2 separate regions of the Homo sapiens genome follow, and region 1 is linked to region 2. The links come from fine-mapping of genetic effects on gene expression. Tissue or cell type: whole blood. Region 2 holds a variant in brackets; the other region holds the start of a gene. All regions are shown on one strand. Distances are from middle to middle.

Region 1 (2,676 bases), 23 kb after region 2:
ATCCGGGAACAAATCCAACCCAATCTCCTCTGGGCTTGAGATGCACCCATCTCAGGAGGCACAGCCTATCCTGCCGCCCGCAGAAGTGAGCAGAGACTGCTCTGAGTGGAGGGCATTGCCCGGGCAAGGTCAGGGTTGGGGGAGGAGCAGTATCCCTTCCTTTCCAAGGCGCTTCCAAGCCACTGACCTGTTTATTACCTGACTTGCTTTCCCCACTTCCCTGAAGGCAGGAGAGACCCTTTGTTCTCTCTTTATAAGACCATGTCTAAAAGGCCCAGCGAGGTGTGGCAACTTCCCAAGGACACACAGCCGGAGGAGCCCCCTGCCTATTGCTCCAAAGTGCTCACACACTGGGGCAGGGCCAGGTCGCTGGGGTCCCGCACACCGGTCAAGTCCTGCAGTGCGACAGCTCCTCTCTAACCTAGGAACAAGTGTCCATGCAGCCCCAGGGCCATCCTATCCCGTGGCTCATGGGGCCCCGCCTCCCCGAACATGTCCTGTCCCCACAGCACCGGCCTAGGACTGTTCACCAGCGAGTGGGCAGAGTGTCTTTGCCCCAGTCTGGTCCACGCCATGGAGAGGCCTGGAAAAACCCAACAGGCTGCTGTTCCCTGCCCCCATCCCTGAGGGGGTTAGAAAAGGAAAGAATGTTCAAAGTAAACAAGTCACCAGAGGGCCATGCCAGGACCTTGCAACAAACACAAGGTGCTCAGTAAGTGCTGAGTCCTGGGATGAAGAATTCTGAAGCGGGACCACTACCAGGGCCTGCCCCCTGCCCACAGCCCTCCCAGGCCGGGCAGGGCAAGTTCTGGAGGGCCGGTGGCGGCATACACTGAAGGCTGTGTGACGTTTCTATTTCTCAAGGCAGGTGAGTGGAATAGGGACCACAGCGGGCCCCAAGTTCCCCCATCAAGGCACGCATCAGATTGTGTGGTCAGCGTGGGGTGACGTAACTGTCTGCATGCAGCTGGTCTGGAGCCCGGAGGCTGTGACTCCCCTCCGCCCGCCTCCGGGCAAAGTGCGCGGAGGAGCCGGCACGGCGAGGCTGAAGTTAGAGAGGCCCGCGCGAGAGTGGGGGGGAGGTCGGGAAAGCCGGGCGCCGGCAGTCCTTAGCCCGAGGAGCTGCGCCGAGGCCCCCTCCGCCGTGCAGCCAAGCGCGGGCGCTGCTTAGTGGGGCTGGGGACGCCAGCCCGCCCTGCGCCCCCACGCCCCCTCGTCCCGCCCACTTGCCGGGGGTGGCTGGAGCTCCCGGGGGCATCGTTCTGACCCTGATGGGGCGGGAAGGACTTGGCCTAGAGCGGGACGTCCCCCAACACTCTGCAGTGCGGACGCGGCGCACACAGGTGCCCGGGGAGCCGCGGCGCCCCGAAAGGACAGGGCCTGGCAAGATCATGCAGCGGTGGGGGGAAGGTCTTACCGAGGCGTCCGGGGAGCCGGGTGTGCCCGGAGGCAGGCCGCCGTTGAGCTCGTACTCCTCGGTTCCCGAGTCCATGGTGCGGCCGCCCAGGCCGCCAGGATCCGGGCCTGAGCGCGCCCGAGCCTCAGCCGCAGGCTCCAGCTGCGCGCCCGCCCCCGGCCCGCCCCCGGCCCGCCCGGCGGCGAGCTGCTGCCCCAGACTCCGCCTCCACCCGGGGCGGGCCCGGGGCCTGGAGGCTGTACGCTGAGAGCGCGCAGTTTGGGGCGACCCCAACCCCTCGGGCCTGAGACGGTCCCGCGGGGCCCCACAAGGGAGGGGGCGCGACGCCGATGGCCCCAGAGGACCCTGCGCTGCGTCTTGCTCTGAACCTCCGTCGCGGACACTTTTAATCCACAAAATGAGGCCAAGAACGACCTTTCCCTGGCCACCAGGCAAACTGCATGAAAGCGAGCGGGCGTTGCCGCTGGCGCCCACGCTGGGTTTTTCCCAGGCGGGGTTCGCCCTGGGAACCGCAGATCGCTCCAGCACAGCGCCTGCTGCGCCCCTAGTAACAGCGTCAGAGAGTCCGGGGTTCCCCTGATTGCGGGCCACGCTGACACAGGGCTTCCCACTCCCTGACCTTAGGTTTTCCTGCCTGGGAAATGGGGGTTATGAGGGCACAGACTGCTGGAGGGGCTGGGGGAGGCACAAAGGGGATGAACGTGCGCTGACTCATGGGCCCATCTGTGCCACCTGTGGCAGGGGGTGGGCTGGGGGCAGCACAGTGCCCAGAGCCCTGGCCAGATGCTAGGCGGGCCCCCACCTGTTGTATGATTGAAGTGGTTGTTTGGTCTCTGTTTCTCCATATGTTCATTCCTCAGCACTTTGCCCATCTGGGGGCCTGGGGGTCGAGAGCATGTGGCGGCCACCCTGGGAGGCCAGGGGAGTTCATCCTGACCACAGCATAGTCAGCTTGCGGCAGTATGGCCACTCTATTTCCAGAAGGGCAGTGGAAGGAAGGCCAGCTCAGACCCCAGGCTCTGTCCAGTCAGGCTGCCACCGGGACAGGAGGTAGGAGTGAGTGGGCATGGGCAGGGCAGCAGGATTGCGCTTGCCCTGATCCTCCAAACGGGGTCATCCCATGAAGGAGGAGCTGTCGTGGGCCCACTTCACAGCAGAGAAACTGAGGCTCAGGCTGTCACTGCCCCAGCTCTGCCTCAGAGGGGATCTGCAGGACAGGGTCTGGCACGGTGGCCCACGACGGGGATGGTTGCTGTTGT
Region 2 (2,676 bases):
CTGTGGCCATGTAGAATGATATGCTGCCACCAGGTGGCAGCACCAGGCCACAGACTCCAGGTCCTGGAGGTCAAGGCCCAGTGGCCTGTCCACTGACCTTGAGAACCACACATTTCTCTGTCATACACATCAAAAGAGCCAATACTTCTGTCTTTTTTTTTTTTTCTTTGAGATGGAGTCTCTGTCGCCCAGGCTGGAGTGCAGTGGCATGATCTCGGCTCAGTGCAACCTCTGCCTCCCAGTTTCAAGCAATCCTCTGGCCTCAGCCTCCCAAGAAGCTGGGATTAAACATGCACCATCATGCCCAGTCAATTTTTTGTACTTTTAGTAGAGATGGGGTTTCACCGTGTTGGCCAGGCTGGTGTCAAACTCCTGACCTGGAACTCCTGATCCGCCTGCCTCAGCCTCCCAAAGTGCTGGGATTATAGGCATGAGCCATTGTGCCTGGCTTCAACTTACTTTTTTAAAACTTGAATCACATTCTGTAGACTGAAAAATAACAGAAGTTAGCACTTATACCATCACTTCATTAATTCCCTGTCACAGCCTACCATGAGGGTTCATTATCCCTTTTTTACAAATGAAGAAACCAAGTCTCTGAGGGGTGGAGTAGCTGGCTAAGGTCACACAGGAAGCCACACTATGTCCCAACACTTGGAATGATGTCACCAGCCCTGTGCTTTCTTTTTTTCGAGATGGAGTCTTGCTCTGTCGCCCAGGCTGGAGTGCAGTGGCACGATCTTAGCTCACTGCAAGCTCCGCCTCCCGGGTTCACACCATTCTCCTGCCTCAGCCTCCCGAGTAGCTGGGACTACAGGTGCCCACCACCACACCCGGCTAAGTTTTTTGTATTTTTAATAGAGTCGGGGGTTTCACCGTATTAGCCAGGATGGTCTCGATCTCCTGACCTCGTGATCTGCCTGCCTCAGCCTCCCAAAGTGCTGGGATTACAGGCATGAGCCACCGCACCTTGCCAGCCCCATGCTTTCTTTGTGACCACTCCCAGCCTGTTTCCCAACCTCCCACCCCACAGGGAGTATGAGGAGTAGCAGTGATGCCTGTGACAGAGGCAATGCCAGGCACTATGTGGTGTGGGTAAGGGGCAGGTTGTCACAGGAGCTGCCATCCAGCAGGTGTCCTGACACCCAACAGGGAAGCTGAGGCTGGGGGCCTGACCTTGGTGCCCTGCCCTGACCCACAGCCAGCCCCCCTGGCCTGATCTTCCCTGGCACCCCCTTGTACCCTCAGTTCCGGAACCCCAAGGCATCCTTGCGTGTGCGGCT[C/T]TGTGACCTCCTGAGCCACCTGCAGCGGAGCGGTGAGCGGGACTGCCAGGAGTTCTACCGAGCCCTGTATATCCATGCCCAGCCCCTGCACAGCCGCCTGCCCAGCCGCCACGCTCTGCGTAAGTTCCACATCACCAACCATGCATGCTTGGTGCTGGCCCGGGGAGGGCACCCCAGCCTGCCGTTGATGGCATGGATGTCCTCCATGACCACCCAAGTCTGCTGCAGCCCAGGCCTGGCATCCCCTCTCGCCTCAGCCCCTCCCCAGAGGCCACCCTCTGGCCCCGAGGGGAGAGTGTGGCAGGCACAGGCAGTGCAGATGTTGGTCTCTGTCTCCCACTTTCTCCCCCTTCCTCCGTCTCTCTCTCATGGCAGTTTTCACACAGCATGGGGCATCTTATACGTCCACTCTTGCCCTTCCTTTTCTAACCTCATTCCACGGGGATCCCTTCATGTCTGTGTGGACAGCAACCTTGTTCCCACAGCTGCATGGCGCTCCTAGGCGGTCCCAGCTGGAATTACCCAACCCCATGACGGACCCTTTCATTGCAGCGATCTGCACACGTGTGGGTGTTTCCATAGGACATTGTCAGGCACGGATGGCTGGTCCGAAGCACGTGCATTTCAGTTTTGAGGCTCCTGTCCTCAGGCAGTGTGGACTCAGGCCCTGGGAGTCATGTGGATGCCAGTAGCCTGGGCCCACAGAGCTGCTGGGATGTGGGGGGCATATCAAGTTGAAGATGGCAACTCTGATCTGACGCCTCTGTGCTCAGGGCCCCTGGAGGAGGGGCTACTGCCCCTTGGCCCTTAGACAACAGGACAGAGACCAGAGGGACTGGGCGGCTTGTCCCAGGCTACTGGGCTGTGGTCTCTGACCCCCTGGAGGCCTCCCCACGCCTCACAGAACACAGTGCAGACGGTGGGCGGGGAGAGCTCGAGGGGAGGCCCAGCCCTGCAGGTGGGACTGGCTCTCCCTCCCCAGCCACGAGTATGCCACAGGGGGCTTTCAAAACCAGGCAGGGCCAAGCCTTGGCCCCACTGGAGGTAGAGCACCTTCTGTGGCTCCCGGGTGCCTTTAGGCCCGTCCAGGAGTTGGAGCAGAGGAGAAGACCCAGACTGTGCATAGTTCCCTGAGGAGGGCTAGCCTCAGGTGCCACAGCCTGGTTCGGCCTGGCGGCCCCAGGAGGCAGCAGCAACCTTGGGCTTCCTGCGGGGTGACTACCTTGCCCTCCGGCCCTGCCCGTTGACTAACTATGCTCTGTGGTTTTGTTTCCAGAGAACTCAGATTGCACAGAGCTAGACTCGGGCAGCCAGAGCGGCGAGCTGAGTAACAGGGGTAACACCTCCCTGCTGCCCCTCCCTCTCTCTCCCTCTCTCTCCCTCTCTCTTTACC

The links. PIP is the estimated chance that this variant, and not a neighbour inherited with it, causes the effect.
Region 1: it holds the start of NINJ1, and the variant in region 2 is fine-mapped to the expression of NINJ1 in whole blood (INTERVAL, PIP above 0.99).

What each region holds. Positions count from the first base shown.
Region 1 is chr9:93,132,726-93,135,401 of GRCh38, forward strand. It overlaps NINJ1 (ninjurin 1), which reads right to left and starts at 1,526. Exons shown (of 4, transcript NM_004148.4): 1 at 1,418-1,526. The coding sequence starts at 1,492. It overlaps LOC124902212 (a long non-coding RNA gene), which reads left to right and starts at 287. Exons shown (of 3, transcript XR_007061665.1): 1 at 287-868. RefSeq lists enhancers at 731-780, 2,240-2,676 and silencers at 1,071-1,320, 1,491-1,720, 2,221-2,270.
Region 2 is chr9:93,109,320-93,111,995 of GRCh38, forward strand. CARD19 (caspase recruitment domain family member 19) reads left to right here. Exons shown (of 6, transcript NM_032310.5): 3 at 1,249-1,402; 4 at 2,560-2,619. Among named protein-coding and RNA genes, the nearest start is that of CARD19, 14 kb to the left of the region's middle. The variant C/T (reference allele first, on the strand shown) is at 1,284.